Linked DNA regions of Homo sapiens: region 1 is linked to region 2. Evidence: fine-mapped expression QTL. Tissue or cell type: fibroblasts. Region 2 holds a variant in brackets; the other region holds the start of a gene. All regions are shown on one strand. Distances are between the middles of the regions.

Region 1 (6,163 bases), 30 kb before region 2:
GGGATTACAAGCATGAGCCACCCACCCAGCTGGTCAACTATATTTTAAATAGAAGCTCTAATCCTTGCTTCTCATACCTTCTGCAGGGCCTGTACCCTTCTTGGAAATCCCTGCCAGGGATCTTAAGCTTCAGTGTGCTTAAGAATCCTCTAAGCGTGCAGTTTCCTGAAACAACCTGCAGAGAGCCTGACTCAGTGGCCCTGGGATAGGGCCCAGGAATCTGCATTTTAAACCAGGGCCTCAGGCAGGGCCTGCCCTTTGAAGTTCACTAGGCCTCCTGGCTCCTGCTGTTATGGCAGGTGGAGAAGAGGCTACAATTTAGCTGTTGCTTTTCTGATTCTGAAGCCTCTGCTGAGGAAGGGGCCGGGGGAGGTGTGCGGTTTTTTGACTTTTTAAAGGGCTTTTTTTCTAGCTCTGCCACAGAGCAGCCTGCCCAATCACAGAGCCCTCTGGGTGCACAAAGAGGAACATCCTGTCTTCTGGGATGACTCAGTCGTGGCAGAAATCTCACTGTAACCAGGGGAAGGTGCACGTCAGAGGCAGCTGCAGTGACTGACTAGAGTTTCGCACTTGCCCCCAGGCGCCTAAACCAGTGAGCCTTTCCTGAGCCAGGCCTCTGCCTTCCATGCGAGCCATGGCCCTCCTCACCACAAAGCCCCAGAACTGGCCAGTCAGCTAGTCAGTCAACAAACACACGTTAGTGCCAACTACCTGCCAACCTCAGGCTGGGACGATGCTGTGATAGAGAAGCAGGCTGGGCATCAGGAGACAGGTGCTAGTCCTGGCTGCTGTTACTCACTGTGTATAGCTGGGCTTGCATTTTCCTCACTGTAAAATAGAGAAAGTACCACCTGCTCTTGATATCGCAAGGGGATATCACCCTGCTAGGGTGGGTTGGGAGGCAGGGTATGGGACTCAAAGAGCTTTGAAGTCCCTGATTGACTCAGCTTCTAAGGGCAACAGCCTCAGAACTGTTAACCTCTCTCCTCCTCCCTGAGGTCACATTTCAAAGTACAAAGATACATACTGAGCACCCAGTGGGCGCAAATTAACTTTTTAAAAAAGCCCTATGACTTCCTACTATATACCAGGCGCTACGTAAGATGCAAAGAATATAGAAAAGAGTAAAAGTGTTCCAAGATTTTAAACGGTGGGGGGTAGTACAATACAGAAGTGTTACCAAAGGAAGCTTTAAGGTGGGCTTGAGAAACAATGAGGATTTGGGGGAGAAGACTGGGGAGGGCATTCCAGGCAGCGGGAACAGCACGGAGGCAAAGGCACGTAGGTCTGAAAGTATGGCCTGACCTTGAAGGAGAGCTATGGGCAGGTGTCCCTGCATGCCAGATAAAGGCAGAGTTGTTCCAGCCAGCCCTCGTTAGGGCAGCAGGGCTGCTCCTAAAAGGCAGTGAGTGGGGTTTGGTGAAGACTCCAGCAGTGTGAGCTGGGGAGGGCTATGGAGTTCAGGGTCCCCGCCATCCCTGGAGAAACTGGCCCCACAAGGAAGTAGCAGCCACTGCACCCTCCTTCTGCACATCTCCTTCTTACACCCAAGCCGCCACTGCCCCTGCTCTCTCAAGGGTCTAACAGACCCCTGAGGTGTCTATCTTCAGTTCCTGGGTGGGATGGACTCTTCTTCCCCACCACCCACACAGGGCTTCTCCGCCCGCTCAGTCATTCCACAGCCAGGGACCCTTCCCTTTATGGCTCAATCCCTCAGAACTGCCCAGACGCCCAGGCTCTCCTTTGCCAGCACAGCTACGCAGCCCGCACAGCCTCCCCGTGCCCTCTGCAGCCCCTTCCCATCCAGCCAGAGCTGTCCAGGGTGCCACCCTGCTTCTACCCCCACCCACACCCTGACACCTCCCAGATGAAGACACTGAGGCACAGAGACATGGCCTGCTCTCACAAGACCTCACAGCCAGGAAGCGCAGACAGAGGATTCAAAGCTGGGGTACCGCAACTCTGAAACCAAGGCTGTCAGATGTGTCAGGGAGATGGGGAAGGAAGACCACCCCCCAAATCAGTAACCAGACCTTCCAAAAAGGCTCAACCATACCCCCACCCACCTGCTGGCAGGGCACAGACTTGCTGTTCTCAAGGGGTTCCCACCAGCTGTGTGGACTCTAGTCCCACAAGGAAGCACCAGCCACTCCCTCTCTGTGTCCTCCCTGCCCCCAGCCCGCTCCAGCAGCAGAGGCCGAGGAGAAAGAGAAACGGTGCCCTGGCTGTTGCCAGCTCTGGTCTTGCCATCCTCAAGAGCTGAGCTGGGTCTGCTGGTCCTCGGACTGTCCTTGGCTCCTCTCCTTGCTCTTACGCAGCTGGCATAAGGGGCCACTCCTTCAATAGGGACCACCCCCCGGCGCCGTCGCTGCCTCCTGGCCTGCTGCCCATGCCTGCATCGTCTCTGAGACCCCTTAGCAACCAAGGACACTAACTCTCCAGGTGCAGACGACGACACCCCAGGCACAGAGATGGACCCGCCTACCCAAGTTCACAAGAGATCAGAATCAGAGCTAGGACTGGAATCTAGCATCCTGAGGCTTGACGAAATCCTCCTTAAATCCACCCTTGCCCTGGAGGCCGGGATCCCCTAAGCCAAGAGAAAAGCGGTGCAGCTCCAGCAGCTGCAACTTCCTGGCTGGGCTGGTCCGGCTGCCTGGACTGTCCCGGAGAGTCTGTGACTGGCCCGTCCAGAAGGAAAGCGGCCTCCCGGGCCCTCCTCCGTTCCAATCCCTTACCTCTCTCGGGCTCCACCACCGTCCTGCCGACCCAGTTTCAGGGGACCTGCCTGTGAATTCTTTGTTCCAAACCCAGGGAGCCCCCTGTCTCCATTGCGCCCTGGCCCACCTCCAGGCCGTTCTGCCAGCCCAAGCTGCTGCTCACAGACCAGCATCGCTCCCCACCTCTCCCCGCCCCTGCCGTGGTTGAGGCCGCCTCGCCTCGGCAGGAAGCGCCCAGCCTGATTTCCTACAAGTGTTTGTCAGAAGGAGGGGGTTTGTCTGCGTGCAGAGCAAGAGCTGGAGGAGCTTAACCCCTTGCAAGCCCTCCGCAGTCAGCGCTGCCCAGGAAAGGACTCAGGGAACAAACTCCTGACGTCCTGGGCTTGGGATCATCTCAGCCCAGGCCCTGCAGGTACAGATGGGGAGACTAAAGCACAGAGAAGGTCAGAGGCTTGGCCAAGGTCACACAGCATGCTGTAGCTCCTACCCTCTAGGCCCTCTTCAACCACGGCCTGACCTTAGCCGAGGCTCCTTCCCTCACTAGGCCTCAGGGCCCATGTGCACGGTGAGAGCTCAGACTCAACACCACTCCTGCCCTTCCAGCTCTGACTCTGCCAATGTGCAACCTGAATCTCAGGGAGACCGTGGTGATTCCTGCCATCTCAACCCACCGTCCTCACCCCGAGGTGGTCCTGCAGCCAGAGTGGGATGTTCGGGGCAGCATGGAGGTGTGAACCTGGCGGATCAGGTAAACTTTCCCTTGTTGTAAGAACCCTCCAAGGGTTCACCAGATGTTGGGAACAGATCGATCCTGATGGTCAGTCGAGCTATCTTTCCTCAAGCCCCACCATCCCATTCCTTCATTCGTAGGTACTCACTGAGCTCCTACTGTGTGGCGGGTGCTTTTAAATCACCTGGGAATATGGCAGGGCCGAAGACAGGCCAGTCCCCTGCTCTCCACTCTAGCAGAGACATGGACAATAAGCAAGCACATGTATAATTTCAAGGAGAGAGCTGTGAACAATGAGACTGGGTGACGATCCGTGTCCCAGGCCAGGTGGCACTGAAGCCTGGGGCTCACCCCAGGCCAACAGAGTCAGTCTCTGGGCATCAGACATTTTAAGTGTCCCAGGTGACTGGCCCTGGTAGAGAACACATGGGGCCAAGAGTAATGGGTTGGAGGAGAAGGGTTATAGGACGGTCAGGAAGGTCTCTATGAGGAGGTGACATTCAAATAAGGCACTGGAAGGAAGAGGGGTCAAAAGCAAGCCACAAGAAGGTTTGGGGCAGAGTGTTCTGGGAGGGCAAGTGGAAAGGCCAAGGTGGGGGAGCCAGCGGGCTTTCCCTGAGAACAGCAAGGCCTGTGTACCCGGGGCAGAGCGAGTCAAGCGGGAGAAGCAGGAGCTTCACAGAAAAGCGGGCACAGGAGCACAAGAGGCTCCCAACACTGGCCCCACCCAGGACCCAGAGACTCTGAGTCAGGAAACAAAAAGAAAGAGGAAAAAAAACAGGCCTCTGTATTGTCCAAAAAGCCCTCCAGGTAATTCTGATAAGCAGCCAGATTTGGGAACCACCCATGTAGGAGAGAAAAAAATCTCAGAGTCACTGTGGACCTGGGTTCAAATCCCAGCCCCATCTCCTGCTGGCCCTGACCTTTGAGGCTTCACGTCTCTAAGCCTCAGTTTCTTCATCTGTAAAACAGGGATAAGAAGAGTAGCCACCCCACAGGGGCTGCTATAAAGATTCAATGACATGATGCCTACCAAGGGTAGAGCGGGGGAGCCAGAACACAGTCATGTATTGAGCTATTTTATTATTGCTACTACAACTATTGCTGCTACTTAGGTATAAGTCTCTGGTCTCCTCTAAAGGCTAGATCTTAATATCTTTCCTGAAGCCTGGCACACTGTTTATGGCTGATGAATGTGTTCTGTGAATGAATGAATGAATGAATGAGTGGACGTTCCCAAGGTCAGCTTGTGAATATCTGGCGTAGCCAGGGCTAGAACCAGGAGCCCTCATCCTGGTAATCGCCCACCCCTCTATCCCCTTTCCTGCCTTTTACCCACATCTGGGTGGCAGGGCTCTCCCTGTAGCCCCCAGCCCCACATGGAGCAGAGCCAAACCCTAATGAGGCCCCTCCCTATCAGCTCTGGAGGCCATGTGTGCCATTGTGCAAGGGGCGGGCTCCCCTGACACCCTGTCACTCACTCACCCTCCCTCCCTGGTCATTAACCCAGGCAGCATTAACCCAGGTGGCTGCCATTGCTGGGCATAGCCTGTGGCCCCTGGATAACCCCAAACCCATCTCAGGGGCAGCCACCTAACACCAAGGAGAACCGCCTGCAGTGCAGTCTGTTCCATTTCCTTGCACCCCCAAGCATGACCAACCCTCCTCCCTGCCTTTGCTCATGCACTGCCCCCTCTTGGATCACTGTCCCCACCCACAGGCCAAATTCTACCAAACCGAAGCAGCATGTCTAAGACTGAGCTCCTAGTATTGCCACCCTCCAAACCCACCCCTCCTTAGTTTGGCCCATCTTTCACCCAGGTACACACTGAGAATCAACTGTGACCCTGGACACTTCCTTTTCCCTTACATCCCATAACCAATCCATCGTCAACTCCCAGTGATTTCATTTCCTAAATTTCACCAGAATCTGTCCCCGTTTCTGCATCCCCACGTGGGTCCCTGGATCGGCCTTGCCTGGAAAGCTCTAGGGTCCACTAATCTGTTCCCCACACTGCACCGATGTGGTCTTCCAAGATAAAAGTTCCAAACAAGACCCTTCCATGCTTCAGACGCACAGCTAGCTACTATGGCTCTGAGAAAGAAGATGAAACTCCACAAGCTGGCCGCTGCTGCAGCCTCTTCTCCCACCACCCTCTCTGCCCTTGCTCAGCATGCTCCTGCCATACAGGCCTCCTTGCTTTTCCTGGGACAGATGTGTCCTGCTCCTCCCCTCACCCAGTCCCACTTCTTTTCCCTGTTAACTTCTAGGCAACCTCCAGATGTCAGCTCCAGCGTGCCCTCCTTGGGGACTCCCCATTTGGAACTATATTTCATATGTGATTATTTGATTAACATCTGTCTCTTCACTCAGTTGGGAGCTCTGTGAGGCTCTCATCATCATATCCCCAGGACCCAGCACACAGGCCCTGATATACAATAGAAATACAATAAATATATCCTGGATGATCCACTCAACCTAGCTACTTGCCCAAGCCTGACTCATAGCCCTCATAACAACCCAATGAGGCTGATGTGACAACCCCATTTCACAGTTGGGTAAACAGAGGCCCCTAGAGCCCAAGCAGCTTGCCCAAGGTCACAAAGGTGATGAGCTGCAGTAGAGTTTCAAACACACAAAGACCTGGCTTCTAATAACCAAGCTTGGTGCTCACAACATTGCAGCCCGCAGAGATAATTAATACCTGTGCAC
Region 2 (5,000 bases):
CCCTTCAGCCCGCTTTATCAGAGTGTGAGTTATGGAGATGATTTGAGTTGAGGTAGCCTCCTCCACTGGACTTGATCAGCTTCAAGAGCACAGGCTCAGCCCCTGGCAGGCAGGAGATGCTCCACAAAGGCTGCTGCATAGAAGAAGGAGTGGCTGAACGCATGACTGAAGGAATACATGGAGTTCCTCTCTTACCCCGCTCATGGATGGAGAACGATTCTCTAAACCATCCAGGTTGGACCAAAGTCAGGATGCAGGAGGAAAAATAAGGCCCTTTGACAGTTTTCTACTTGTTTCTGAAAAAAAAAAGCTGGTTTGACAGTGAGGGGTCCCTGCAGCTGGAGGGGCCTGAGACAAGCCTGAGCTTCTCCCAGTTCACTGTGCTGCAGACAAGGAGGGAGGCACAGAGGCCACAGAAGGAGGCCAATGCAGAGAAGCACTGACAGCCACATCTACTGCCCCCTATTCACCTTCTTTTTGGGGGACAAGAGGAGGGAAGAAGGACAGTAAGGCCTTCAGGGGCAGGGATCCTGTCCCCAGCATCCTTGGGCAGGGGCTGGGAGCCTCCTTCCAGGCATATGACAGGGCTGGAGCACAAACTCTCTCAAATCCAGGTGGAAAAAGCCTGAGGTCAAGTCCAGGGCAAATCCCAGCTGCTGCCACCTGACCTCAAGGGCATTTGCTCCTTGAGTACAAGGCTGGCCTTGACCTCTCCAATCCCCTTTTCTCTACAATGCTCTGCAGTGCCTGAAATGCTTTGGCTATGTATCCTCACCCAAATCTCATGTTGAATTGTAATCCCCAGTGTTGGGGGAGGAATCTGGTGGGAGGTGATCGGATCATGCGAGCAGATTTCCCTTTTGCTGTTCTCGTGATAGTGAGTAAGTTCTCATGTGATCTGGTTGCTTAAAAGTGTACAGGACTTCCCCCTTCTCTTCCTCCTCCTCCAGCCATGTAAGATGTGCCTGCTTCCCCTTCAAACTTCCACCATAATTTTAAGTTTCCCGAGGCCTCCCCAGCCATGCTTCCTGTACGGCCTACAGAACTGTGGGTCAATTAAACCTCTTTTCTTCATAAATTTCCCAGTCTCAGGCAGTTTCTTACAGTAGTGTGAGAACGGATTAATACAGGGCCCTTTTCCAACCTTTGGAGTAGAAACAGAATGGGCTCCTCCACACTCCACACCTGCATATCCACTCCTGATCTCACTGAATCTTCAGAACAACCCAGACAGCTGGTCTTATCAGCCCACCGTACAGATGCAGAAATGGAGGCCCAGAAGACACAAGTCATCTGCCCAAGGTGACAAAGCTACTACTCTGGAAAGCAGAACCCAGCTGGTAGGATCCCAGAATCTGTGCAATTAAGCCCCTCTGCCACAGGCATGCTGGCACTAGATGAAGAATTCAAGAAATAACAGGCAGGCCTTTCTTCTTTCACTCTGCTCTCTCGGCCAACATCTTTATGGGGGAAATGATATTGTGTGAAGGCAGCATAAAATGCTCAGGGCTGGCTCTCTGTTAGACAAATGGAAAATCAACACAGTTTGTGAATGGGGGAAAGCTGGATCTGATTTCCTTTGATTGACTGTGTCTGCTTTGAGGGGAAATGGCTGCAGAATGAGCCACATTTAACCTGGGATCAATAACCACACAGCATGATCCGAGGAATTCAGGCTAAATGGAAACTGGCTCCATTTGGGGCCAGTGTCTGGGGCATCTCGGTCATCGATAGCCAGCCACCTGATGTCATCTTGCCCAACTGAACACTAGAACAAAGAACATTTTCCTACCATGTGGGAGGCGAATGTTTAGAAGGCCGCATAGTAGAAGATAATCCTGCAAGTGGCCGGGGAGTGTGTGCTTTCCTTCCAGTTTCTGTTCCACACTTTCTGGGCCTCCATTTTGCACCAGCTCTCGCTGTTTATTGGGGAAGGGAAACCCACGAAGAGGTTAAAGCAATGTGACAAGTGATTTAGCAGAGGTATGAGGAGTGTGTGAGCTCCATGCAGGAAGGGATTTTGGCCATGTTATGTTTTGGGTTGTTGTCCACATTTTAGGGTTATTACTCAGCATTACTGCAGCAAAAGCTTACTAATATGTGGTGTTGTAGACCACACAGCGGCACTTAGTGGTGAATAAAGGTGATTATTTCAAGCTCTTTCTCTCTCTGGAGGAATGCTGCAGTCCTTGTTCAAATATACACAGAAGAGGTGGGAATATAGAGTTGTCATTCCTTGCTGTGCCTCCCCCAAATATTTTCCAGCACCTCCTGATGCAGAGAAGACTCTCAGAACTGGAGGAGCCATGGGGGTCTTCCGTGGTTGTACAGATGGGGAGACTGAGGCCAAGAGTGAGTGAGGGGCTTTCTTGAGAGCACACTGCCTGGGAGAGACAGAGTGGAGTACCGGTGTGGGGGTCCAGACTCCTAGGATGGGTCCCAGTGCCCTGCGTACTCTGCAGGAGGGCTTCCACGTGGAGGAGGTTTGTCCTGTGGCCACACATGCAGCCAACATGGGTGTGCATGGCTAAGGGACTCCCACAGTCCCCACCGGCAGGAAGGGTGGTACCTCCATCAGGTCTATAAACCACAGCAGTCGCTCCTGAGGAAGGGTGAGCAAAAGGCAGTCGCTCCTGAGGAAGGGTGAGCAAAAGGGCCTCCAATCTGAGACCTGCTGTGTGTGGGGGTGGGGAGAAGAGGGGTTCCCAGGAGACAACAGGGCAGGGGCTGACCCAGCCACAGGAGGAGCTGGTGCCTGCAGAACCCATCATCACATCTTTAGCAACTCAGGCTGCATGACCTTCCCAGGCCCTTCGTGGCCCACAGACCTCTGGGTGTGGCTGGTTCCTAGGAATTAACCAGTTCACCTTGGTACAAACCCACTCTTACCTATTCTCAATAATCAGGGGGACCCTGTTAAATCGAAGTCAGACCACATCAGTTCCCTGCTCTTACCTGCCAAGGACTCCCATCTCACTCAGAGTCAAAGTCCTCAGCATGTCTGCCCCCGTACTCCCTCTGCTCTGGCCTTA[T/C]TGGCCGCCTGGAATTCTCTGACATTCTCTTACCTCAGGGCCTTTGCACATGCAGCTGCTTCTGTTGGAAATGCTCTTCTCCCAGATGTTGGCATGGCTCTCTCCCTCACCACCTGCAGGTCTTGACTCAAGGGTCACTCCCTAACCACCCCACCCCTCTCCAGTCTCCCTTGCCTGCTTTATTTTTCTCCCTAGCACTTGTCATCATTTAGCTTACTGTGTATTTCAGTTATCTATATCCTGTGTTATTGCCTGGCATTCCTGCTGTCTGTTCAACTCCATCGTGGAAAGGATTTCTTTGGTGTTCACCACTGTATCCCCAGAACCTCAAAATGTACATAGCACACAGTAAATGCTCAATATTTGTTAACAGAAAGGAAGGACAAGAAGAAGGAAGGGAGGAGAGAGGCAGATAGATGACGAAATGATGCTTAACAGGGAGCTGGTGAGATCCTTCAGGGAAGAATCACAGCCAGATGGCAGGGGTAACAACAGAGCTCAGAGTCAAGCAAGCCTGGGTTTGAATCCTGGCTCCATCACTCACTAGCCATGCAACCTTGGGCAAGTTGCTTCTCCTCTCTGAGCTTTGGTTTTCTTCTTTGTAAAATGGGGATCACAGCAGTACTCACAACTCCTAGCTCCTGGGATGGTCAAAGAAGATACGAATGGAAAGCACTACCACAGTGTCATAGAGAACATTCAACAAATCTCAGCCACTATTGTTATTAATAAAGGCCCAAATTATGGGCTAGGGTCTGTGCTGAGCACTAGGGATAGGGACTCAATGGTAACCGCACGTGCGATCGCTGCCCTCAAGCAGTCAGCAGTCACATTGGGTAACTGGGAAACCTGTACAGGCTTTTATAATAGGACATAATGAGGCAAGAGCTGTGACCAAAGGAAGCCCGGGGGCAAGAGGAGCCGTGGCCTGAAAGTCACTCCCCTTGGGAGGATCAGGGAAGTCTTCTTGGAAGAGGCAGCTTCTGAGCTGAGGGCTGAAGCACACATAGGAGAAAGTCAGGTCATATGAAGTGGGGAGAAGAACATTCCAGACAGAAAGCACATGGCATATGCAAAGGCCAAGGGGTCTCTCAACATCACGGGACAGAAATTACCATCCTCATTTTACAGATCCTAAAACTGAGCTCAGAGAGGTGAAACCACTTCCTGAGGTCTCACAGCAAGAAAGTGGCAGAGCTGGGATTTGAATGGACGGGATTCTCACTGCAGAGCTCAGGAAACCTGATGACCTGGAAAGACAGTCAGCACCAATAAGAACCCCTGGTCCCCACCAGGACTGGGTGCAGACATACGGGGGTGGCAGAAAAGGCCACAGCCCCCTACCCCGGCCCCTGGTTAAGGGACTCCCACAGTCCCCACCGGCAGGAAGGACGGTACCTCCATCAGGTCTATAAGCCACAGCAGCCGCTCCTGGGGAGGAAGGATGAGCAAAAGGCAAAAAGAAAAGATACATCAAATAAATATTTAGGGAATGGGTGGGTGCAGCAACAACCCCTTCCCCAAATGCACACGCGCACACACACATGCAAAATCCACACGTTCTCCAAACCCCTTTTCTATTTACCTTGAATGCTTTGGGCAGGAATAATGGAGAGAGGGGAGGGAAAGACCCCACTGCCATGACCAGCATCCCTTCATTCTGCCTGCCTCCTTGAAGGAAACAGGCGAGTCCCCACTGCTCTAAAGAAAAGACATTTGTCCCTGCTAAAGGGCCTTCAGGAGACAGTCATTTACTTTGGGGCGAGGCTGGGATCCGTATTCCCAGAGAGAGAAACAAGCTCAGAGAAGGGAAGTGAATTGTCTGAGGTCACACCTGCTAATGAAATGCAGAGCTTCAAGGAGGGCCCTGTTTGGAAGCCTCGGTTGGAGAAGGCCTGGACTTCAGGGAGGCCCAAGCCCTGTGATGTCAGAGAAGCTGAATCTGTGGAAGGGAGCTCTGGACTGTGC

What was found. PIP is the estimated chance that this variant, and not a neighbour inherited with it, causes the effect.
Region 1: AKNA starts here. The variant in region 2 is fine-mapped to the expression of AKNA in fibroblasts (GTEx, PIP above 0.99).

The regions. Positions count from the first base shown.
Region 1 is chr9:114,385,122-114,391,284 of GRCh38, forward strand. AKNA (AT-hook transcription factor) reads right to left here and starts at 2,861. Exons shown (of 22, transcript NM_001317950.2): 1 at 2,739-2,861. It overlaps LOC124902253 (a long non-coding RNA gene), which reads left to right and starts at 2,929. Exons shown (of 3, transcript XR_007061742.1): 1 at 2,929-3,132; 2 at 3,324-3,468; 3 at 5,722-6,163. RefSeq lists enhancers at 434-503, 524-573, 694-753, 1,524-1,673, 2,488-3,223 and 2 more.
Region 2 is chr9:114,415,607-114,420,606 of GRCh38, forward strand. The region is part of intron 7 of WHRN (whirlin); the gene reads right to left. Among named protein-coding and RNA genes, the nearest start is that of AKNA, 30 kb to the left of the region's middle. The variant T/C (reference allele first, on the strand shown) is at 3,033.